Linked DNA regions of Homo sapiens: region 2 is linked to region 1. A link means that fine-mapping ties the variant in region 1 to the expression of a gene that starts in the linked region. Tissue or cell type: whole blood. Region 1 holds a variant in brackets; the other region holds the start of a gene. All regions are shown on one strand. Distances are between the middles of the regions. Region 1 overlaps GRAMD1B (GRAM domain containing 1B). Region 2 holds the start of GRAMD1B (GRAM domain containing 1B).

Evidence for each region.
Region 2: it holds the start of GRAMD1B, and the variant in region 1 is fine-mapped to the expression of GRAMD1B in whole blood (TOPMed, PIP above 0.99).

What each region holds. Positions count from the first base shown.
Region 1 is chr11:123,455,383-123,468,177 of GRCh38, reverse strand. All of the region lies in intron 1 of GRAMD1B (GRAM domain containing 1B), which reads right to left. Among named protein-coding and RNA genes, the nearest start is that of GRAMD1B, 32 kb to the right of the region's middle. The variant C/G (reference allele first, on the strand shown) is at 5,916.
Region 2 is chr11:123,423,604-123,436,398 of GRCh38, reverse strand. GRAMD1B (GRAM domain containing 1B) reads right to left here and starts at 6,130. Exons shown (of 20, transcript NM_001387025.1): 1 at 5,233-6,130. The coding sequence starts at 5,606. It overlaps LOC124902776 (a long non-coding RNA gene), which reads left to right and starts at 5,185. Exons shown (of 2, transcript XR_007062928.1): 1 at 5,185-5,452; 2 at 7,583-11,323. RefSeq lists silencers at 5,503-5,552, 5,663-5,992.

The DNA of each region.
Region 1 (12,795 bases):
GTTGAAAGTACCCTGAGGCTGGGTGCGGTGACTCACACCTGTAATCCCAGCACTTTGGGAGGCCAAGGCGGGTGGATCACGAGGTCAAGAGATTAAGACCATCCTGGCCAACGTGGTGAAACCCTGTCTCTACTAAAAATACAAAAAAATAGCTGAGTGTGGTGGGCATGCCTGTAATCCCAGCTACTCGGGAGGCTGAGGCAGGAGAATCGCCTGAACCCGGGAGGCAGAGGTTGCAGTGAACTCAGACTGCGCCACTTCACTCCAGCTTGGCGACAGAACGAGACTCCATCAAAAACAAAAAAGGAAAGAAAGAAAGGAAGGAAGGAAGGAAGGGAGGGAGGGAGGGAGGGAGGGAAAAGAAAAGAAAGAAAAAGAAGGAAGGAAGGAAGGACCCTGCTAGGCCGTGCTGGATGTGTAAGGCATGGCCCGTGACCTCAGGGAACCCACCACTCCTGATATGTCATTCATCCATCCATGTTTCCACCAACTATGTTTTAGGCATTGGTTCCAGACATCTGGCGATGCCGACTTGAATTAGACATATGTGGACCTTCCCCATAAAGAAGCCACTGTAACAAAACCCGCCAGAATCTTCCTAATGCCAGGGCTCCTCTTTCCTGCCCCCGTGTCAAAGTTGTGGTCCAATTCTCAGTTATCCAACATGAGGAAGCTGCATCTCAAGCCTGACAGCGCCTCCATGAGAAGGTGGGCAGGAAAGAATATGGCTCTCCATTTAGGCACAACCAGTGAAAGTCAGTAAAAAAAAAAAAAAAAAAAAAAGGTGTTGAAAACCAAGGCTACAACGTTTTTGTTTGTTTCTTTCTGAATTATCTATGAGTATTAATTTTTTAAAAAATTGAGACAGGGTCTCCCTATGTTGCCCAGGCTGATCTTAAACTCCTAGGTGCAAGCAATCCTCCCACCTCGGCCTCCCAAAGTGCTGGGATTACAGGCGAAAGCCACCACACCCAGCCTATCTATAAGCTTTAACTTTTCATGCCAATCCTTAGCTCTCGTGAATACAGATCATGAAGCTCTGGCTAGGAAAAATAAATAAATATTCTTTATCCTTTTTCACAAAGGGTAAATGATCCCTCACCTACAATAAAATTCTAGGCCTATCACCACACATAATTAAAATAATTATACTTACCCCATTATATTCCTCAAATGGGTTCTGAGAAAAGGGGCAAGGAGAAACTGTCAGCTTTAACTCTCTTCACTTGCTCTTAGGTAAAGGAGCACACCACCTTTTTCTAGTTTCCCACATCCTACTAGCTTCCTTGGCCTCAATCACTACTTAACTTCACAGTGAAATCTTCAGCTCTCTCAAGAGAATAAATACAAATTAACCAGATCCCTTACTAAACCTTTACTCAGAAGGTAATGTGGTCAACCAAGTTGCTTCCCAGAACTTGAAGTTTGTAAGAATTGGTCAAAACCCTGGACCAGCCTCAAGGCCAGCCTCCCTCCACTCTCCACACACGCACCATCCCCTCACTTTCCCCCACCCCTACTCCCTGGGTCCCCTTCCTGCCTGTGGAAAATCTCTTGCTTCCCAATGCAGAGTATCCATGTTGGAGAAAGAAGTCAGTGCTGAAAAGCTGCAGAAAGTTCTTAAGCCCAGGGCAAGCCAGAATCCATTTTATGCCCAAATCAGTCAGTCAATCTTTTTCTTTCTTTCTTTTTCTTTCTTTCTTTCTTTTCTTTCTTTCTTTCTTTCTCTTTCTTTCTTTCTTCCTTTCTTTCTTTTTCTCTTTCTTTCTTCCTTTCTTTCTTTTTCTTTCTTTCTCTCTCTCTTTCTTTTTCCTTCCTTCCTTCTTTCCTTCCTTCCTTCCTTCTTTCTTTCTTTCTTTCTCTTTCTCTCTCTCTCTTTCTTTCTTTTCCTTCCTTCCTTCCTTGACAGAGTCTCACTCTGTCACCCACGCTGGAGTGCAGTGCTGTAATCCTGGCTCACTGCAACCTCCACCTCCCAGGTTAAAGCCATTCTCCTGCCTCAGCCTCCCAAGTAGCTGATATAACAGGCGTCCACCACCACTCCCAGCTAATTTTTGTATTTTTAGCAGAAATGGGGTTTCACCATGTTGGCCAGGCTGGTCTTGAACTCCTGACCTCAAGTGATCCGCCCGCGTAGGCCCCACAAAGTGCTGGGATCACAGGCGTGAGCCACCATGCCCAGCCCAAATCTTTATTTTCAACAATCAGTATGATCTTGAGCCCTTTAACTAAACTGCTCCAGTTTAATGAGGAGTTCGAGTATTTTCTCCATCCATTTCCTCTCACAGAGTCAGGCCAGTACACACAGAGAGCTTTCACTTCTGTTTCCTACAATGTCCCAACTTCCTCTCCACCAAGAACCCTCAAACAATATTCCTAAGTGTGTTTCTTTTTTTTTTTTTTCTTTCGAGATGGAGTTTCACTCTTGTTGCCCAGGCTGGAGTACAGTGGTGTGATCTCAGCTTACTGCAACCTCCGCCTCCCGGGTTCAAGTGATTCTCCTGCCTCAGTCTCCCTAGTAGCTGGGATTACAGGTATGCACCACCACACCCGGCTAATTTTGTATTTTTTTTAGTAGAGATGGGGTTTCACCATGTTGGCCAGGCTGGTCTCAAACTCCTGACCTCAGGTGATCCGCCTGCCTCTGCCTCCCAAAGTGCTGGGATTACAGGCATGAGCCACCACACCACGCCCCAAGTGTGTTTCTAATGAAAGACACACAACTACCATTCAGAGCTTCAGGTCAGCCTCCAAGGACATGTCTTACCACACTGGATTGATAGAATTCAAGCCAAACAAAGGAATGTTTTAGGTTGTCTTGTTACAGAAAAATGTACGTGTGGTTTCTGTTAGGCTTCTGGAAATGCGAAAACACCTAAAGGAACTCCTCTCTCTAAGGAGCCATCGACTTGGGCTTTCAACATACATACCGCTCTTTGCTTGATCTCTACTTGGCTTCTCTTCCCCTACCAACCTCTGAAAAGTTGCCCCTAGAGTTCCATCCAGAGTCTCTTTCTCTTCTCACATGACACATTCTCCTCCAGCAATGCCATCCATATCCATGGCTCGGACAAAAAGCCACATGTTCACTCCCAAACCTGTATCTAAAACTCCTAGTGTTCCACCAAGCTCCGGTCCCCCATATCCAGCTGTTTACAGGATGTCACCAAAACCCTACCTCCCTAGGCTCATCGCACAGCCTGTCCAAAACTACCCCTTCCCGCCTCCCACACCCTCACTTCTCCCCAACAACTTCCATCTGCCTTCCTTAGCTCAGTCACCTGCATCACCATCCCTCCACTTAGCTGTACAAACAAGGAAACACAGAAATAGTTCCAGCAGTTCTCTCTCCTCCACTCCCTACCTTCGATCTATCACTGAGTTATATTAGCTCCCACCTTTGAAACATCTTTTATATCCATCCTCTCCTCTCTATTCCTATTATCCTTGCTCTAGTCCAAATATCAGTACCACCTTGGCTGCATAAGAATCACCTGGAAACTTTTTAAGAAAAGAAAAAGGTTCCCATTCCCTCATTGATCCTGGATTCTGATTCAGGGGGCCTGGGTTGGAGCCTGAAGGAGTTTTAACAGGCATCTCAGGTTTGAAAACTACTGACATCCCACTCTATTGAAACGGTCCTTTATCTGTGCTGACAAATGTTTAACAACTAGATTGGTGGAGGGGGCTGATTTATATTATTTGCCAATTTCTGCCATGTATACTCCCACCATGATTGATTTCTGCTATCGGTGAAATTGGCATTGGGAAATGATATGCACAATCGGCGTCTACAAGTGGATGCCAGCTGGCCCCAGCATGCTAATGTGCCTAGATGTTATTATTATTATTATCATTATTACTATTTTAGAGGCCAAGTCTTGCTAGCTCTGTCTCCCAGGCTGGGGTGCAGTGGCATGAACATGGCTCACTGCAGTCTTCAACTCCCAGGCTCAAGCAATCCTTCCACCCCAGCCTGCCGAGTAGCTGGGACCACAGGTGTGCACCACCACACCCAGCTAAATTTTTTTTTTTTTTTTAGAAATGGGGTCTCCCTTTGTTGCCCAGGCTGGTCTTGAGCTCCTCGGCTCAAGCGACCCTCCCACCTTGGCCTCCCAAAGTGCTGGGATTACAGGCATGGCCCACCCCTGTTATCTTCTAAAACAGCTCTAGTCAAGTCTCTTCCCAAGTTACAGTCTCTTGAAGTCTTCCTATAATGTCATAGAATACAGTCCAAAGTTTTCTGCCTGCCACACAAGGCCTTACTACATGAAACTGACTTCCCCAGCAGAAAGCTCTTCCTGAGGCCTTTACACAGTTTTCCTTTCTGGGGCTCGTGCTCCCCAAATCTCCCATGCACATTCATTCCTGCAACTTCGTGCATGTTGTGCTCTCCACTTTCTCTTCATTTCCCTTCTATATGATCCATATCTTCCACCCTGGCCTATTGGGCGCTGTGTCACACAGAGGCCTGTCCCTTCCCTTGGTGCATTCAAATATTAACTCATTGACTTTTTTCTCTGCTGACCCAGAGCTCTGTCTCCTTTGAGCCATAGGACTAATGACAAATCCAAGTTGGCACAGTTATTACCAGTGAGACGGTAGCTCTGCCCGTGTGGTGGAGAGAACCTGTTGGCTACATCAGAGAACACCTCCTTTAGTGCAAACTCTGGCTGCTTTTTTCAATTCATTCAAGATACTGCATACTAATATGTTGTATTTAATACTAGGAATAAACCTTCCCATTAAAACACTTCTTCCCCATCTACAAAGTGCTCCCATGTATATGCTTCCAACTTTTTACCCTCATCAGGTAAATAAGAAGTGTATACACTCTGATCCCCATTTTAAAGATGAAGAAAATAGGCTGGGCACGGTGGCTCATGCCTGTAATCCCAGCAATTTGGGAAGCCAAGGCGGGTGGATCACTTGGGGCCAGGAGTTGGAGACCAGCCTGGCCAACGTGGTGAAACCCCGACTCTACTGAAAATATAAAAAATTAGTCAGGCGTGGTGGTGGCCCATGCCTGTAGTTCCAGCTACTCGGGAGGCTGAGGCATGAGAATCACTTGAACCTAGGAGGCAGGGGTTGCGGTGAGCCGAGATCGCGCCATCGCACTCCAGCCTGGGTGACAAAGTGAGACTCCATCTTAAAATAAATAAATAAATATAAATAAATAATAAAGATGAAGAAAATAAGACTTCACAGGGATACATGGCACGTCTATGAGCAAACTGTGCTGGTAAGCTAAGAAACAGGGATTTCTTTTTTTTTTTTTTTTTTTTTAATTTATTTTTTTATTGATAATTCTTGGGTGTTTCTCACAGAGGGGGATTTGGCAGGGTCATGGGACAATAGTGGAGGGAAGGTCAGCAGATAAACAAGTGAACAAAGGTCTCTGGTTTTCCTAGGCAGAGGACCCTGCGGCCTTCCGCAGTGTTTGTGTCCCTGATTACTTGAGATTAGGGATTGGTGATGACTCTTAACGAGCATGCTGCCTTCAAGCATCTGAGAAACAGGGATTTCAGTTTAAGGTTTTTTGTCCCTGAATTCTTTATTCTTTCACCTTAAGCACACTCCAGTGCTGGAGCGTAGCATTCACTTGGAGAAGGGGTGGGTGGCAGGGATAACCTCACTGATGAGACTGAAGGGACTCTGAGCTTGGGCTGGGACTCAGGGGCTGAGCTGAGCTTGAATGTTCACTCTGCCACAAGTGTCAGCCGTCTCTGCTTTGCAGGTGGCAGCCCTCAGCTAGAAAGCAAGAGCATCTGGGAAGTCCAAGGCAAGTGAAAACCTTGAAACAAGAAGTAACGAGTCTGCTCTGCCCAGTTTGAGGCAGTTTGTCAGGGGATGGCACCTGCCACTGAGGTCACAAAGCCACAGGTGAAACCATAGAAATAAACAAATGACTGGCC[C/G]GGCACGGTGGCTCACACCTGTAATCCCAGCACTTTGGGAGGCCAAGGCGGGCAGATCACGAGGTCAGGAGATCGAGACCATCCTGGCTAACATGGTGAAACCTCATCTCTACTAAAAATACAGAAAAATTGGCCAGGCATGGTGGCGGGCGCCTGTGGTCCCAGCTACTCGGGAGGCTGAGGCAGGAGAATGGCGTGAACCCAGGAGGTGGACCTTGCAGTGAGCCAAGACCGTGCCACTGCACTCCAGCCTGGGCGACAGAGCAAGATCCCATTTCAAAAAAAAAAAAAAAAAGAAATAAACAAATGACCATACCAGAAAAAAAAAAAACCTGCACTTGAAAGTAGAGCTATCTTGGCCGGGCGCAGTGGCTCATGCCTGTAATCCCAGCACTTTGGGAGGCTGAGGCGGGGGTATCGCATGAGGTCAGGAGTTTGAGACCAGCCTGGCCAACATGGTGAAACCCCCGTCTCTACTAAAAATACAAAAATTAGCCGAGTGTGGTGGTGGACACCTGTAATCCCAGCTACTCGGGAGGCTAAGGCAGAAGAATCACTTGAACCCAGGAGGCAGAGGTTGCAGTGAGCCGAGATCACGCCATTGCACTGCAGCCTGGGCAACAAGAACGAAACTCTGTCTCAAAACAAAACAACAACAACAACAAAAAGTAGAGCTGTCTCAACAACCAGCTGGGGAAGAAACCATAGACAATCCAAAAAAGACAGAGCAGTGTGCCAAGGCATAGGCCAGGACTTCCCAGAGCTAGAGCCAGGGCTGGAGAGACTTCTAGGAGGCCAGTGACGTTTGGCCTGCAGCCCAAGGGGGAGTCTTTGGGAACCAGAGAGGCCAGCACCACCTCATTTAGCCACAAGGACAGGAATCACAAGGGCTCGGCCAGCTGCAGACAGAAATGCTGGTGCCCTGGGGGACTCTTAGGAAACAGTCCTGGTAGCAGTGCCAGCTTGGCTTTTCTGCCAGCTGAAGTCAACATAGCTTGATTTAGGAGCCAACCTGGAGTCAGTCGGGGCAGCTGATTCCCCAGAAAGACGACTGAACTGACAAGAACATTTTAGAAGCAGCCCAGGCAACAGGAGCACTGGTCCATTCACATCTGATTGAAGACCAAACTCAATTAAGACTCAATATGTTTTTAAGACATTTTTTATGACTATGGCTTCCCAACTGGCTATTAATTTTGCTATCACCTGTTTCCCTCTAGTCAACACAAGCCAAACCTCTTAAAAAGCCAAAAATATGTGAATTCCAAAAGGTCACGAGGTGGGAAAGACACAGAGAGCCTTGTGTTCTTCCTGGACGGCCCAGGAAAGAGGCGCCCAAGGAAAGGAGAAGCTGATGCACCTGGGAAGGCAGATGGATTCTTGGGTCCTAAAGGGACAAAGGAAACGTAGGAGCAGGGGATTCATGCAGAAACCCTATCAAAGACCAACCGCTCTAGTGACCTCGGAGCTCAAGGACAAGCAGCCCGCAAGCTGTGCTGTTTTCCAGAAAGAATCCTTTCAGCTTCCTGCCTCCCCTTCCCTGCCCCACTCCTGTCCGCCCCCCAAATCCTGCTGACCCAACCACCATCCAATTTCATTTGCCCTTAGCCCCGGGAAAAACTGGCTTATGGTAAAAGCATTATCTTGTTTTTTCCAATTGGAAGACATAAAAACAGTCCTAACCAAAAACTCTGGTCATTAACACTCACAGAGTGCCCTGGGGGGCCTGGGGAGAAATCCCCGCATTGACTGGGGCTGGAGTCACGGTGTCTAGGTGTAATTGCCACAAATCTGCCCAATCACGCTCCTGGCCTATATCCAATTAACCCTCTTCAAGTTCAGTCCCGGAACCCACTGAACTTGGACAAGAACATAAAAAGGATTTTGATGGTCCACAAAGTAGATAATTCATGTACTTTAATTCATCTACTATATTTTCTACTATATTCATCTACTATAATTCATCTGTTTCCACAATGCCATTTTCCACTCAGGATTAAACTCCATGTCTTCTCTGCCAAGCACTTTGACAGCCTTCTGATAAGCTTGTCATACCACACATGGTCACTTTTCAGTAGCATGGAGGCAACAGGTACTGGATAATTCAGGATATCGAGCAGAAGAAAACAGAAGTTGACTAATCCACAAACCATTTATTTTTAGTTTGAGAATTTTAATGAAACACACACACACGTATGTCCAATCACACTCCTGGCCTATATCCAATTAACTCTCTTCAAGTTCAGTTCTGGGACCCACTGAACTTGAAGGGACAAGGGTGAGGACAAGGACATAAAAATGGACAAGAACATAAAAAGGATGTTGATGCTCCATAAAGTAAATAATTCATTCACTCAGAAAACACTTTTTGAATGGCAATCTGTACACAGAAAACAGATGAGAGGCAAGCTTTGGGTGAGCCAGGTGTCCAGTGAGAAGGTAGCAGAACAAATTTACCTAAGACCCAGCCCTGCCCTCCAGAACCTCAGTGTGTGTTTAGGAACAGGACTTAAAGTATAAAGATAGTTGTGAATAACCAGTTCACATCATAGGGGAAGGGTCAACTAACAGGTATTTGAGTACCTAGTATATGGATTTTTTGCACACTATCTCACTTAAAAGTCAGTATTTGAAGAAAATAATATTCTTCTCTCTCTTTTTTATCAAACTCAATTCTTTTATCTTCAATTCCTTTAAATCATGAATATGGCCGACCACAGTGGTGCATGCCTGTAATCTCAACAATTTGGGAGGCCGAGGTGGGTGGATCATCTGAAGTCGGGAGTTGGAGACCAGCCTAGACAACATGGCAAAACCCCACCTCTATTAAAAATAGAAAATTAGCCAGGTATGGTGGCTCACACCTGTAATCCCAGCTACTCTGGAGGCTGAGGCAGGAGAATTGCTTGAACCCAGGAGATGGAGGTTGCAGTGAGCCCAGATCATGCCACTGCACTCTCGCCTGGGTGACAAAAGCAAAACTCCATCTCAAAAAAAAAAAAAGAAGATAAGGGTTCATGAAGATTTTCCCATGATCAGCAAATTAAAAAAAAATATATAGAAGTGTCTTATTTCTTTGCAATCAAATACCCCAATCTGCCCTAACTCCAAGGGCTGGTCACCATAACTATAACCCATCTACAATGCAGTGCATGTTCTTTGTCATCTACACAGCCTCTGCTACAACAAGCTCCTAGAAACACTTTTCCAAACTCATGGCTAGGAAGGCCATTGTGTCTGTGATTGTCTGAATATTCTGTTAACTCCGCTGTGTATTACGGTGTGCATTAAGCATTAAAGTGATTGTTCTCACTGAGCTCAGACTCAGAGTTGGGGGGAAATTACAGGAGCACAAAGGACTAGCCCCAAAAGAACCTCCACTTCAATCACCAAGCCATACCTGGAACTACCCATTTGCAGACTTGAAATTTGAAAATAACCCACCCGTATACACACTCTACATGTTGAGAGATACTTGTTCTTATCACTCAGAATGCTCCCATTCTCCTGGAATTTTTTGCCCATTACTCACATTGGGGAGTATGAAGAGGAGGGGAAAAAAAAAAAAAAACAAAACAGCCTTTCACTGTTTCCTTATCTAGGATACTGTTCATCCTATAAATCAAAAAAGGGATTTGCATCAAATTCTTTATGACCATTTTCTTCTCAGATTGATTTTAGTGAGAAGGTAATTGTGATGGTTAATTTTAGGTGTCAGTTTGACTGGATTAAAGACTACCTAGGAACCCGGTAAAGCATTATTTTTGGGCGTGTCTGTGAAGATGTTGCCAGAAGAGATCAGCATGTGAGTCTGAGTGGACTAGGTGCGGAAGATCCGCCCTCATTGTGAGTGGGCACCATCCATTCTGCTGGGGGCCTGGAAAACAAAAACTGAGAAAAGGTGAATATGTGAATGGAACTGCCAGAGTTGGATTATATTCTTCCTCTCTCTGTCCCTCAGTGGCTCTCTGAGTTCTAGGCCTTTGGCCTCAAACCGAGAGTTACAACATCAGCTTCTCTGGTTCTGAGGCCTGCAGACTTGGACTGAGCCACGCTACCAGCATCCCAGGGTCTCCGGTGTGTTGTGGGACTTCTCAGCCTCCATAATCATGTAAGCCAATTCCCCTAATCCCCTCCCCTCTCCTCTCTCTCTCTCTCAGAACTCCAACTAGGTTCTGTGTAGCATACATACGCACTTATCGTGGAGTCATGCATAAAGTGGTACTCATCTATTTAAAATATGTGGCAGCCAGGCATGGTGGCTTACGCCTGTAATCCCAACATTTTGGGAGGCCGAGGCAGGAGGATTCCTTGAGCCCAGGAGTTCAAGACCACCTTGGATAACATAGCAGGACCCTGTCTCTACAAAAAAGTGGAGAAATTAGCCAGGTGCGGTGGTGCATGCCTGTAGTCTCAGCTACTCAGAAGCTGAGGTAGGAGGATCACTTGAGCCCAGGAGGTCGTGGCTGCAGTAAGCGTGATTGCACCAGCGCACTCCAGCCCAGGCGATAGAGTGAGACCCCATCTCAAAAAACAAATACATAAAATAAAATATGTGGAAAATAGAGCACGGAGCACAGTGGAGCAATAGCACCAGAGCCAGGCTCATAAGGCTGGGTCCAGCACTGACTCTGTCATGGACTCCGTAGAACACAGAGCAAGTTGCCCCATTGTTCTGAACTTCAGTTTGCTTATCTGTAAAATGAACAGAGTGTGCTAGACAATCACATAGGCCCTGTCTAGCCTTAAAAGTCCCATGACGCTAAGCTAAGAAATCTTCCATTAAGCCTGTTTGAAGGCTAAGTGGAAGACACAAAGATTGAGAAAGAAGGGAGTTGCTGGCTATTCTAAAACACGTGAACTAAACCACGAGGGTAGGCTGACGCTGGCTGGACAGTGGGGAAAGAATAGCAGTCTAAGAACAAACGTGGTTTAGAGGCAGCTAACAGAGACACAGAAATGTGGCTTCCTGGTTCACTTCCTGTATGCTCATTTGATAAGTGTGTCCTTTAACTGTTACTCTCTTTCCAGGTTATCATTTTATAACAATCTCTAATTTTATTAATAAAATCATGAGCCGATACTTCACAGCAGGAAGGGATTCGAGGGATAAACTGTTCTAATTCTTTCTTTCTTTCTTTCTTTTTTTCTCAGAAAGGGTCTCTCTCTGTCACCCAGGTTAGAGTGCAGTGGTGCCATCACAGCTCACTGCAGCCTTGACCTCCTGGGCTTAAGCAATCCTCCCATCTCAGCCTCCCGAGTACCTGGGACCACAGGCATGAGGCATGTGCCACCACACCTAGTTCTTTCTTTCTTTTCTTTTTCTTTTTTTTTTTTTTTTTTGAGACAGAGTCTCCCTCTGTCGCCCAGGCTGGAGTACAGTGGCGCCATCTCAGCTCACAGCAACCTCTGCCTCCCAGGTTCAAGTGATTCTCCTGCCTCAGCCTCCACAGTAGCTGGGACTACAGGTGTGCACCACCACACCTGGCTAATTTTTGTATATTTAGTAGAGACGGAGTTTCATCATTTTGACCAGTCTGGTCTCAAACTCCTGACCTCAAGTGATCTGCCTGACTCAGCCTCCCAAAGTGCTGGAATTATAGGCGTGAGTCATTGCGCCTGGCCACACCTGGTTATTTTCTGTATTTTCTGTAGAGACGAGGTCTCATGACATTGCCCAGGCTGGTCTCAAATTCAGGGGCTCAAGTGATCTGCCTGCCTCAGCCTCCCAAAGTGCTGGGATTATAGGCATGCGCCACCACACTTGGCCCCAATTTTTTCTTTTTCAAACAGGAAACCAACAGCCCAAAGAAGGTAAATGACAAGTGTAAAGTCACAGAGGTATTTAGTAGCACTGCAAAGAATAAAACTCGAGTTTGCTGACTCTCGGGGCTCTTTCCACAACACCAATGCTGCCCTTAGAGAACAAGAATGTCAAACTCCTGGTGGGCAGAGAAGGCATCTGAAACTTTTTTCTTAACCCTCTGGTGCTTCTGCTGACAAGAAGGATAACTGTTAACAGTTGCTCATTCTATAAAATGGATATGCCATTGTTGAGTGTGTTGTTCTTTTTTGTTTTGTTTTGTTTTTGAGACAGTCTCTCTCTGTCGCCCAGGCTGGAGTACAGTGGTGCAATCTTGGCTCACTGCAACCTCCCTCCACCTCCCTGGTTCAAGCGATTCTCGTGCCTCAGGCTTCCGAGTAGCTGGGATTACAGGTGTGTGCCACCACACCCAGCTAATTTTTTGTATTTTTAGTAGAGACAGGATTTCACCATGTTGGTCAGGCTGGTCTCGAACTCCTGACCTCAAATGATCCGCCCACCTTGGCCTCCCAAAGTGCTGGGACTACAGGAGCGAGCCACCCCACCCGGCCTGGTTGAGTGTTTTCTATATGCCAGGCTGTTTTCTAACCACTGGGAACACAGTAATAAACAGATGGGGCAAAGGTCCCTGCTCTCAAGGACCTCAAATTCTTATGGTTTAGCAGAAGGGATGCAGAAATGAGAGACAGATCATCAACAGAGAAAAATAAAAGAAGATGATAATTTCAGAAGTACAAAGTGTTATAAAGACAATAAAGCTGAAGAATGTAGCCTCAAAAAAGCTAAAAAATATGTTAAGGGCAGAGAGTAAGTGGCAGAGCCTGGACAGAATCCATGCAGATCACTCCAGAGTCCGTGGCTTTGCAAACTATGCCGTATTGCATGGTGAGCGCAGCAGTTCGATAGCAAGTAGAGGATGAATGATCAATTGAGTGGAATGCATATCATCAGAAGGGGTTCCAGTGTAATTTTAATTTTGAAGGGAATTCACAAGCAGATTCTTGTAAAATCTGGCCAGGCGCGGTGGCTCATGCCTGTAATCCTAGCACACTGGGA
Region 2 (12,795 bases), 32 kb after region 1:
TCATCCATCTCTATCTTCAAGCCAACACATCCAAACTGCTTTCACCTATAGGCATTTGTTAACCCTTCAAAACTCAGCTCTCTATAGATCAGTGGTTGTCTAGGGCTGGGGAAATGGGATGGAGAGGGTGAAGGTGCTAGCCAAAAAGTATGAGTTTCAGTCAGGCACAGTGGTTCATGCCTGTAATCCCAGCACTTTGGGAGGCTGAGGTGGGCAGATCATGAGGTCAGGAGTTCAAGACCCACCTGGCCAACATGGTGAAACCCTGTCTCTACTAAAAATACAAAAATTATCTGGGCGTGGTGGCGAGCTTCTGTAATCCCAGCTACTCAGGAGGCTTAGGCAGGAGAATCACTTGAACCCAGGAGGCAGAGGCTGCAGTGAGCCGAGATTGAGCCACTGCACTCCAGCCTGGGTGAGAGAGGGAGACTCCGTCTCAAAAAAAAAAAAAAAAAAAAAAAGTATGAGTTTCTTTGTGGGGCAACAAACGTTTTTAAAAACTGACTGTGGTGATGGTTGTACATAGCTGTGAATATATTAAAAACCACTGAATTATGCTTTAAATAGGTGAATTGTATATTATATAAATTATATCTCAATAAAGCTGTTTTTAAAAACTCAGCTCTGTACTCATCTCCTTTTGGAAATTTTCCCACACTCATGAATAAAAGAATTTCACTTTAAACAGTAGAGAAAAAGGAATCATTTATTTACTCATTATTAACTCATCAACAAACATCTATAGATCTATAGATCACTGTAAGAGGTCAGGTACAGTGCTGTGACGATACAAAGATGAACATGATTGGTCTTGGAGTATTCCAGTGAACACTGGAAAGTTAGTAAGCCATGCTGTCTTTACCATTTGTTCCACTTCTTCCTTCCTAGGGTTTAAGGAGAAGAAAAGGGTCTCCTAATCCTCTTCATATTTTCAACTTTGTGCAGTGAAAATCCGCAAGCTTGAGCTTCAAGTCAGTGACAAGTAAAAAAACAAACAAACAAACAAATAATGAAACAAATAATGAAAAAACAAAAATTAAAAGAAATCCACAAGCTATGGCCCTCTCAGCCACTTAACTTCTACCACATCACGCTGAATTTCATAGCAAGCCTGAAAGGTGTTTTTCTCTCTTTTGGAGCAGGAGATTTGGGGTGGGGAATGTGGAGACGTCATGCTGGGCCTGGTATGCTAATCCTCCCTAATCCAGGCCAGAGCAGAGCCATTTTCCAACCATCATTTCCAAATCCTGAATTGTGTGAGGAGGCTCAGGTGCTGCTCCAGGACACGTGAGTATGTAACCTCATACTTTTAAGCAAACATCCATTCCATGTGAGAGACTCACAGAGTAATGAAATAAGCCTTCACCCTTGCACAGCAAGAGGAAGTTTGCAAAACATTTTCACATTCACTACTCTTCAGACTTCCCATTAACCCACAGAGATCCTCTTCCACAAATGAAGAAGGTGAAACTCATGGAGGTAAAGTGAAATGCTCAAGCTAATCTCCATAGCTAATCGATGATAGAACTTAAATATACAGCTGTCTTCTGATATTAAGTCCAATGTTCCCTGCACTCCATTGCCTCTAAATGCCAATTCTATTTTCTTTTGGAAATGGAGTCTTGCTCTGTCGCCCAGGCTGGAGTGCAGTGGTGTGATCTCAGCTCACTGAAACCTTTGCCCACAAAGTTCAAGCAATTCTCATGCCTCAGCCTCCTGAGTAGCTGGGATTACAGGCGCGCACTACCATGTCCAGCTAATTTTTGTATTTTTAGTAGCAACAGGGTTTTGCCATGTTGGCTAGGCTGGTCTCGAACTCCTGGCCTCAAATGATCTGCCTCCTCAGCCTCCCAAAGTGCTGGGATTACAGGCATGAGCTACCACACCCCGCCACCAATTCCTTCTCAGGCCACTTGGTGGTATCTACGAGCACCTATTCACTTGATTGCTGCTTTTCTTGGAAGGAAGCCTTTCATCTTCGAGGCCTAAAAATGATGGGGCTTTGTTTTACACACAATCCAAATAGATTCCAACAGAAGGCAGTATAACAGTAGCTAAGAGTAGATGTGAGTCACACGAATTTGAATTTGAATCCAGAGTCTGCCTTTTCAGATACATATGTTCTTGTTTTTTGTTGGTGGTGGTTTTTTTTTTTTTTTTTTTTTTTTGGAAACGGAGTCTCACTCTGTTGCCCAGGCTGGAGTGCAGTGGCGAGATCTCGGCTCACTGCAACCTCCACCTCCTAGGTTCAAGCAATTCTCCTGCCTCAGCCTCCCGAGTAGCTGGGACTACAGGTGTCCACCACCACACCTGGCTAATTTTTGTATTTTTAGTAGAGACGGTGTTTCTCCGTGTTGCCCAAGTTGGTGGCTAACTCCTGAGCTCAGGCAATCTGCCTGCCTCATCCTCCCAAAGTGCTAGGATTACAGGCGTGAGCCACTGCGCCCGGCTGATACATAGGTTCTTCTAATCCAAAAGTCACCACTTAAAATAACTGCCTGAACTACATCTAGATGAAAATCCTGCCAAATTTTAAGGATATGTCCCCAAATCCAACAAAATGAAGGTTCCACTACACACATAGACAACTCTCGAAACCAGGAATACCTTCCTAAATCTAACCAAATCTACTGTCATCCCCATCCTAGCCAGCAATGCAAGATTTTTTTCTTCATACACACAAAGACACACACACACACACACACACACACACACACACGCACGTAACATTTTAAGCGTTGGGGGTGGGGGTCTCACCATGGCTGAAATGCAGTGGTTATTCACAGGCACCATTATAGCCTACTAAAGCCTTGAACTCTTGGGCTCATGTGATCCTCACACCACAACCCAAGTAGCTGGGAATACAGGCCATGCCATTGCACCCGGCTCTTTTTACCATATTTTGTCCTCAGTATATATGGCAGAATCTCAAGATCAAAAGAAGGTCTCTTTTAGTTTCTTTTACATTGGAGGGAAAAGCCGACAAGCCATGACAAACTACTTTATTTATTTATTCATTTAAGATGAAGTTTCGCTCTTGTTGCCCAGGCTGGAGTGCAATGGCGCGATCTTGGCTCACTGCAACCTCCACCTCCCGGGTTCAAGCAATTCTCCCGCCTTGGCCTCCCGAGTAGCTGGGATTACAGGCACCCGCTACTACACCTGGCTAATTTTTTGTATTTTTAGTAGAGACAGGGTTTCACCATGTTGGCCAAGCTGGTCTCGAACTCCTGACCTCAGGTGACCCTCCCGCCTCACCTCAGGTGACCCTCCCGCCTCAGCCTCCCAAAGTGCTGGGATTACAGGCATTAGCCACCGCCCCTGGCCTGACAAACTACTTTAGTTCAAGGTTAGCTCCCACCAAGCTTGCCCCATTTCCCTCTACTCTGTGAAAAGGGTAGCAGGATGAAGTACCAAACAGAAAGAACTTCTATCCCCAGCGTCCACAAAAATCCACGGAACAAAGCTCTGTATCTGCACCTGCTGAGAGAACCATGCTCAGTTGTTGCAAACAGAAAAGATAAACTCTGGAAGGCCCAAAATGCCCATCTTCTGCATAACGGATCCTACTCCTCAGTCCCCACCCCGCAAAGACACATGGCTCATCCTGTTTCTCCTGCCATTCTTCATATTGTTCCCTTCAGCCAGTCTTATGCACCCAACCTCATTCTTTTCCTGCTGTTTTCTACTACCCATCTGTATTTGTCATGGTGTCAGCCTCTTCCTTCAAGAAGTCTTCCTCTACTTCTCCAGAACTCTCTCTTTTCTAGTACAATCAGTACCACACAGCACAGTATGTTTTCCAATGGCTCCCACAGGTCTTCAATTTTTTTTTTTTTTTTTGAGACAGAGTCTCACTCTGTGGCCCAGGCTGGAGTGCAGTGGCACAGTCTTGGCTCACTGCAGCCCCTGTACCCAGGTTCAAGCGATTCTCTTGCCTCAGCCTCCCAAGTAGTTGGGATTACAGGAGCCTGCCACTACACCCAGCTAATTTTTGTACTTTTAACAGAAATGGAGTTTCGCCATGTTGGCCAGGGTGGTCTCGAACTCCTGACCTCAAGTGATCCACACGCTTCGGCCTCCCAAAGTGCTGGGATTACAGGTGTGAGCCACTGTGCCCAGGTGTTCATTTCTTATACAAGCCTCCCCTCATCTTCCTTCTCAGCCTCTACAACCCCTTACTCTACCTATCCTTCCCCCACACCCTCCTCAACATCACCACTATTAGCTGTTACTAGACTGAGCTCACAGAAATATTCAGTAAGTACTTACTGAATTGAAATCAATGTAATTGAACAGATTTGGAGAAGGAATTCCAGGGAAAGTGATCAATGACTCAGTTGCTCCGCACAAGAACACAAATCCATTAAGAGACAGGACCCTAAAGTCTCAAAGTAAATATGTAGGATTCGTGGTACCGATGAACAAGTGAGGACTCCCTGCCCTCCACCAGGCAAGGGGCTTGGCTCAGACACAACTTCCTGAAGCAGCAGTCCTGACCAGGGCTGTGTAGAGCTGCTCTAGGGCGCCCTGCAGCAATTCTCTACGTGAGGGAAGCTCAACCTTCTCCCATTACCCAGATGCCACATTGACCTAGGCAAAAAACTAGCTGGTACAAACCACAGTCTTGTAGGTATCGATGTCTAAAGACTCTGATATGGTAGGAAATGTGACTCACTCAATGTCAATATTTCACTTCCACACAAGTGAGCCAGTTAAGGCAATCCGGTGTGGCCAAACATAAAATAAGATTGAAACGGAGTCCTGAAATATAAACCACTTAACTGTTCTCTGGCCTTTTACTATCTCCTTCTGTAGAAAGGGAGCCATAGTAATACCTACCTCAGAGAGTTTGCGTAGGGATGAAATCTGGAGGTACATGAAGTGCGCAACATAGTGGCCCGCACATGGTAAGGGCTCAATAACTATTAGCTGTTATTATTTTTATTATTTATTTCGCTGCGAGGATCAAGGGAGATGGAATGCAGCGTAAAGCCCCACGTAAACGTGTCGTGCAACATGAAGCCCCTCACCCTGAGTTGGGGAGCGGGTGGCACGCGTGGAAGCTGAATGCCACCATCCCTGGGACCAGGCGCAGCGCCCTCCAGAAGCGCCTCTGGTGACGGGCTCCTGTTCTCCCCCAGGACGTTTCCCCCAGAATGCCCCGGGGCCCTGGACGGCTCTGGAGAGGACGGGAGGGAAGGGAAGGAGACGGGCGGAACGGGGACGTACCTGCTTTCACTGCACTCCTTCCGCTCCCTCACCCTCAGCCACTTGCGGAGGAGGAAGCGTTTTCGGCGCGGGGACGCGCTGGGTGTGGAGCAGTTGGACCACGGGGTGTCCTCGTCGCTGGAGGGCGTGATCTCGATGGACGGCAGCTGCAGGAACTCCTTGCCGGGGGCCAAGACGGCGGGCAGGTCCCGGGCCAGCCCGGCCTCCAGGCTCTGCTCCTGTACGTTCTTCATGCGGCGCATCTTGAAGCGCCGGCGGCGAAGCGTGGGGGTCGACGAACTGGACCAGACCGGGCTGCCCTCGGGCGCACCCTGCGGCTCGGGCACCTGCAGGGCGGGCAGCGGCCGGTTCTCCATCATGTTGGCCGCCGGCATGGGGGCCGTCGCCTCTGCGCTCCCCCTGAGCCCTCCGCCAGCGGCCTGGTTCGCGTCTCCCTCTGGCTGTTCCCCACCCTCGGCCCCGCGGCACACTCCCCAATCCTGGGGCCGAAGGAACAAGTTCCTTTCCCGGAGCGCAGCGAGGAAGGGACGCGAGGGGACGCGGCGTAGCGCGCCGCCGCCCGGAGTCTAACTTTTCGGAGCGCGCGTCCTCCGGGCCGTCAGCCGCCGGCGAGGCCACCCGGGAGGGGCGGGAGCCGCCTGCCAGCCACTCGGCAGCCCTCCTGGGGCTCCCCTCGCGCGCCCGCTTGTTTTTCTTCCGCTGCGCTTCCTCGCTTGCTGGCGTCTTTGCCTTAGCGGGACTCGGCAGCCAGGGGCCCCAGGGGGCGGTGCAGCAAACTCTCAGCGGTTTGCGTTCAGCAGACCAGGTTGGGGAGCCGGCTTGGCGCTGCAGGGAGGTAGAGAGCGGGAGGAAGAGGCAGTGGTAGGAGGGAAAGGGAGAGAGAGACAGAGAGAGAGAGAGAGAGAGGAAGCGAGACACTGGATAAAAACAAAAAAGGAGGAGGAGGAGCGGGGGCTGGGGGCGGGGTGAGGGGGGCTATCCTGAATGGGCTAGCACTGGCAGCGACCGCTAGTGTAACTGTACACGGATTCCCTCGGGGAGGGACTCGACCTCCAAGTAAAGGCTGCTCCAATCAGCCTACTGAAATAGGATCACAAACCAAACTTTCTCAGGGCAACGATTGGCCAGGCAACTCCCATTAGTCGAACTCGGCTATTTCCTTGGGGGTGGGGGGTGCAGAGAAAGGGGAGTCAATGAATTCAGTCCTCACTCTCTCAGGCCACCCATGATACAGGGTTGAAGGAAAATGAGGAGACTTTTCAACTAGCTCTTGTCTCCTAAGAAAGGCAGTTTAAATTATTTGGGGGCGTGAGTAGTGGCACTGCAGGCCGGAGTATAGTCAGAGGAGGAAAGCAAGGTTGCTGGAGGCTGCTTCCAAAATGACAAGCTGAGAAGAGGACAGTTCTCCCGTGGCGGCGTGAGCTGAGGATACCAGACATGACATACCAAGGAAAGACAGACAACAGGGTCTGAGAGACAAAGGACACAGGACCAGTAAGGAAAATGGGGCCTGAACCCTGTACATGAGCCAGCTGCCAGTACCATAGCCGCGTCCCTAGCAAAGAATGAAATGAGGAGTCGGTGAGCACCCACAAAGCAATGCATCCAACAGAGCCCCAGGGAGTCGAGGGTACCCCCCCTTACATTGCTGAGGGCTGATTCAGTTCTGCTTCAGCCTGCCATGGACTGAGTCACAGAATCCAGTATGTCCCCATGTCATGGAACCTAGGAAGTCTGGTTCAGTCCTGGTAGCATCCCAAGATGTGCTGAACCACACTCACTCTCTAGACCCAGGCCCTAAGAGATCATCAACCCTAGAACCGATCCATCCTATTTAGGTGCTCTCTGTGGGCACTGAGTCTAACCCAGCCCAGCTCCTAGAGCAGGGCTGTAGCAGCCATTCTCCTCCTTCAACCCCAGCCCAATGCATTTGTCTCTTGGGTCAGTAACTGTTTTGTTTTGTTTTGTTTTTAAGAGACAAAGTCTCACTCTGTTGCCCAGGCTGGAGTGCAGTGGTGCAGTCATGGCTCACCGCAACCTTGAATTCCTGGGCTCAAGCTGTCCTCCCAGCTGAGCCTCCTGAGTAGCTGGGAGTACAGGTGCGCACCACCACACGCAGCTAAGTTTTATTTCTTTTTGTCGATATGAGGTCTTGCTATATTGCCCAGGCTGGTCTCAAACTCCTGGCCTCAAGTGATCTGCCCACCTTGGCCTCCCAAAGTGCTGAGATTACAGGCATGAGCCACCATGCCCAGCCTGGTCAGTAACTTTCAAAGAGATCATGAGAAGCACCCAAGAACATACCATGAAGTCCACAATCTGATCCACCCTTCTTTTCTGCCTCTCTCAGAGTCCAGTTTCCATCTGGGAGCCAATGCCCAGCTTCCGTGCCAGGACAAAAGTCACATTTCACAAGTGTCCCGAAGCTGAGGAAAATTCACATCCCTAAAGATCACAAGAATTCACTGCAAGTAAATACATCCCTGCAGTTCAGCAAGACATCAAGGATGACAGCTGGCTATGGATCTACCAAGCTCTGCAATGACACTTGTCAAGTATGGAAAAGCTCAAGGCATCCTGACATTACACAACTTTTGAGAGGCTGGGAAACCAAGGGAAATATTTCTTCCTCAGGGAGAGAGATACTGCGGCTGAAGAGCCAAGGCCAGGCCCTCCCATAAATGACTCCCTGGAATGTCAGCCCCCGTTTCTGAAATCCAGCCACTGGCCCTCTCAGGAGTGATTTGGTTTCACTCTACTTTAACTCCTGGACATAGCACAGAAAGCAGAAACCCCTTGCCATCAGGTGTCAGGCCTGCCAAGGTCACCTCTTCCGGCTCCAGGGATGCTGAGGAGATTGCACTGTAACTCCAAACTTCAGGATCGGGAGCTAAGCCAAGTTCCACAGAGTTTGTTCACTGCCTTGTACTTCCTCCAAGGACGAGTGTTTTGCAAGGGATCTGATAACTTCCCAGTTCAAGGAACCTGAGTTTTGGGCGGGCTCTTGACATAGAAGATGAGGGTCTCAGGGGCTTATGGGAAGAAAGGAAGCCAGGACACCACCATTCGCTTGGAGGCCAAAAACACAAAAGGATGGTCCACAAGACAGGGGCCAGAAGATTCTATGGGCAGCTTGGGAAGAGGGAGAAGAAACAAGGGAGGAAGCTTTAAGTTTGTTCTGGGCACTCTGAATTTAAGTGTATACCTCTTACAAGGAAGAAAAGCCACCAGCACCCTCTTCCCACACACTTCAGCCACTTTTCCCACTCACAGTAGATTCTGGAACTGAAATCCTGTGAGATTTAATTCAAGCCTTGGGCACAGCAGTGGCTAAGAGTGATCATTTACATTTCACCCGGCCTGAGGGAAAACCTCCAAGCAGGAATCTAAAATGTTTCACTTGATTGGGAAGCAGATACCCTGAGCTCTCTTAGCCTGAACGCTGTCCTTACTCACTTGCACCTGCAGTCCCTTCTTTTTTTCAAGCCATAACCCTTTTGACCGTTAAAACCCTGTTCAAAACACATCCTTCAGCCCTTTCCAGCTGTTTCTGTTGCCCATGGCTCTGGCAAGTAAGATAATAAATGAGGCACTGCTTTGAAATATGAAATGCCCTACAGCTGTGAGCCAACATTACTGTTAAGACTATAAGCTCCTTGAGAAAAGAATCAAGTTTCTCCTTCCTTTAATTCTCTCCAGTATCCTGTGCTTGTTATGTGTATGGTGACCTTTACACTTTTGGAAAGAGCTTTCATACATCACACTGTGTCTTCCCAGCGGCCTTTACAATTGATGAAAGTGGGACAGAGAGATTCAGTAGTTTATCCAAGGTCACAGATAAATGATGATGGCTAATCAATGACAAGGCCAGAATTGGAACTCATGCCTTCTGAAGCCAGTTTAGAGGCCTCCAAAAGTGTAGAGAAACAATTTCTCAAAGTAGCTGGTGCCAACATCAGAACCAAAGAGTTTTCATGCCCTGCGTCAGAATCTCAGCGATTGCACTTGCTCCCCAAGTCTCCCCACTCCCATATTTCTTCTCTCCAATATTTGGCTCTCAGCGACCGCACAGTTCTCTGTGAAACAGACCTCACCTTTGCCCCCATTCCCCGCTTCCCCAGACAGGTGGTAACCAGAACAACCCAGCCTCCCCTTTCCCCACCTGCAGCCAGGCCTCTGACTTTAAATGAAAGGAGGTCATATTACCAAGCAACTGTTGTTTATTCTCAGCTGCACAAGCTCCCTTTTCCTACAGACACAAGACACCCAACACCTGTCTATTACTTCTGGAGACTCATAAACTACTATTATTATTCAATTTCCAGGGGAAAACTTTAGTGAAACATAGTAGCTTCCAGACTAGATTTCTCCTGGGTACACATCCAAGTAAATGTGAACTGGAAGGCGCTGGCACCCCGGACACCTTATTGCACCTGCTCCAGGATGCCAAGGCAGGGAACTCCCAAAGACACAGGAATGTCTCCCCACAACACTGTTGTTGCAAGACAGACAATCCCCACTCTCAACACTGGGACACAGAGTCTCTCCCCTACACAACATTCGAACGGCCAATCCCAACGGTTGGCCCATTATGAGGGAAAGAAGCAGGCAGTGAGCATAGAAGAAGTGGAATTTGAGGCTGGCAGGGAAGCTGGAAATACGGACAGAAACGTGGATGATGCTGAGAGCAATGTTGACTGTCTTCAAACACACAATGAAGGATGGCCAGATTTCACTCTGCAGCTCTCATTTTGCTGCTGAGCAAGAGGAAATGCATTTCTGTAGAGTGCAGCATGGGGGATTTGGGATAGATGATAAACATTTACCGAGTGTAAGGCTGGTTAAGGACTGGCCTGAATGACTAAGACTGGGTAGAGAATGGCTTTCTCTGTAGGTCTTTTAAAGGTAACTGGAGCCTACTTAGAGGCAGTGGCAGGAAAGAGATGATCTCTTAAAGGCCCAGCCCACCCTACTACTGTGGGTCTCTAAGACCCAGATTGTTTCTTTTTAAAGTAGAAGCAATTCACTTACACCTAAAACAAAGTCTGTTTGAGCTGACCTGTTACTGGCTCAAAGGCATTTTGATCACCGGATGCTAAACACCTCCCTGAGACCCACAAATAGCTTTAATATCTTGCACTGGTGAACTAGAAATACAGGGATCAATTACCAGGATGGTGCTGAAGCAAGGAAGTGAGGGTTCGGGGATGAAGACAGGAGAAAGAATTGGAGGGAATAACTTAAACTCCTCCCCATGGTATCTCCTTTTGTTTCTTTCACGAGTCCTCCCTTCATTTCCCCAGGGAGGGGCTCACTACTTTAAGAAGGGTCAGAGGATGCTGCACTGAATTGGTGTGGTTAGAGAAGCAGTGTGGAGGAGGAGGCTGGTGCTGGTTAAATACAACCTAAATCAAACCACAGTTGACCAACCACCACATCCAGCTTCTCCTTCCAAGGAAAAAGGGAGAAAATGCTTCAGGACTTTGATGGAGACTCAGTTTCCGAGAATAGAGCCCTGGGCAGTGCTCTCAACCTTGGGGAGTACACAGGGTCAGCTCTTTGTTTCCAACAGCCCTCACAGGGGCCAGGGTGAGCAGTGACGTCACCTCAGGAGAAGGACTGTCACCAGATAAGCCTCCTTGGTTTAATCGCTCATCAAAAGGCTTAGGCGTCAAAGAAGAATGTTTTGCACAATATTTGGCTGCCCTTGTACTTGACACCAAGGATACCAAGGCACAGAAGGACATCATCTCTTGTCCTCTAAATCTTGCAAGGACTTATGTGCAAACCAGGGCTGCAAAAGACTTTCTGAGGTCGCCCCACCTGTCCTTGGCTGCCCATCCCAAGGAAAGCAGGTGGCATGTGCTGGAATTTCTGCTGTTGCTTTCCTCAGAAGCATTGCAAAATATCATCAGCTTATACTAACTACCGACTAGTGATTGAGTGTGCAGACCCAAAATCAAGCCACCTGAGTTTTGGACCTGTTTCCATCACTTGCTAGCAGTTTTATTACGGTTAAGTTATTTAACTTCTCTGCAACTCAGTTTCTCATCTGAAAAATTAAGTAAATAAATAGCATCTCCTTGCTGGAGTGATTGTGAGCATTAGTGCTGTGTAGGGCACTTAGAACAGAGTTTGGCACACAGTAAGTGCTCCATAAATGTTAGCCTTTGTTATGTATAAGTTTCCTTTATAATACCCTTCGTAGGAAACAGGACTATTCTTGTTGATTTTCAACTCAGTTTAATTCTACAAGTAGTTGTTACGCTAGAACACTGTGTAAAGCTCCTTGTTCAGGAAGTCCTTGGGATATAGCTAGATAAATAAGATACACATGGTGCATTGGAGCACATGATCCCTCAAAGCAGAATTAATTAAGTGCAAAATACAAGTGCACAAGAGGTGTGACTGGAAAGATTGATAAATTTTAACTAGAGGAAAAGAGGTAGTCTAAGCAGGTCCTATGGAGGAATGGGTATTTAAGTTAATACTTCAAGTCAGAATTTCAATAAAAAAGAATAGGGTGTTAGCAGTTTGAATAAAAGCATTGAGGAGTGAAAACTCACAAAGAGGTTTTGAAAATAGGAAAAGATAAGTCAGAGCATAGGGTGAGACATACAGGATTAGACAATGAGGCTGGACAAATGAGGGGTCAGATTGCAGTGCAGAAGGGTTTTTGGTTGGTTGTTTGTTTTTAATTAGAGACAGGGTCTTGCTATGTTGTCCAGGCTTGTCTTGAACTTCTGGTCCAAAGGGATCCTCCTATCTCAGCCTTCCAAAGTGCTGGGATTACAGGTGCGAGCCACCACACCTAGCCTAGTGTTGAATTATAGATTTTATTCTTTAGGCAAGGGTTGCTATTCAGATTGGTTTGGGTTTGGTGGTTTTCTTTTTTCTTTTTTTTTTTTTTTTTGGTGTTGGGGGACTGCATTACTAACCTGTATTTGAGAAGCATCAACTCTGGTGACAGCATGAAATTTGAATTGGAGAAAAAAGCAGATGGGAACCATAAAAACCAATTAGGAGACTATCATTCAATCAGCCAATATTTTTGGAATATTGACCATATGAATGGCAAATAGTTCTGGTAAGAGATGGAGAAAATCTGAAATAGGGCAGGGGAAAAATGTGGAATGAGAGGAGATAGGCAAGGAAAAGGAGGAACCTCTGGAAGAAAACCAAGAAACAGCAATCACTGGGAAGCCGAGGGGAGAAAGGAGGCGTTTATTGCATGGCTACACTAAGCCAGGCGCTGTGCTGAGTGCTTCACCCACAAAATCCCAGCTGACTCTTGCAACAACTCTGAGAAATAAATATCAAAAGCCCTATTTCAAGATGATGAGAGATTTTACAAGGTGACTTGCCCAAGTTCACACAGCTAGTAGAAGATGAACACAAATTTAAACAAGGGTCTCTTTGCTTTAAAACTTATACTTTTTAAAGTATACTACATTTCAAAGAGATAAATGATGCTATATCCTATAATGAAGTCAGGCAGAAGAAAGACAGAGATAATTCCATTAAATTTTGTAATTAGGTCATTGATGACCTCTGAGACAACAA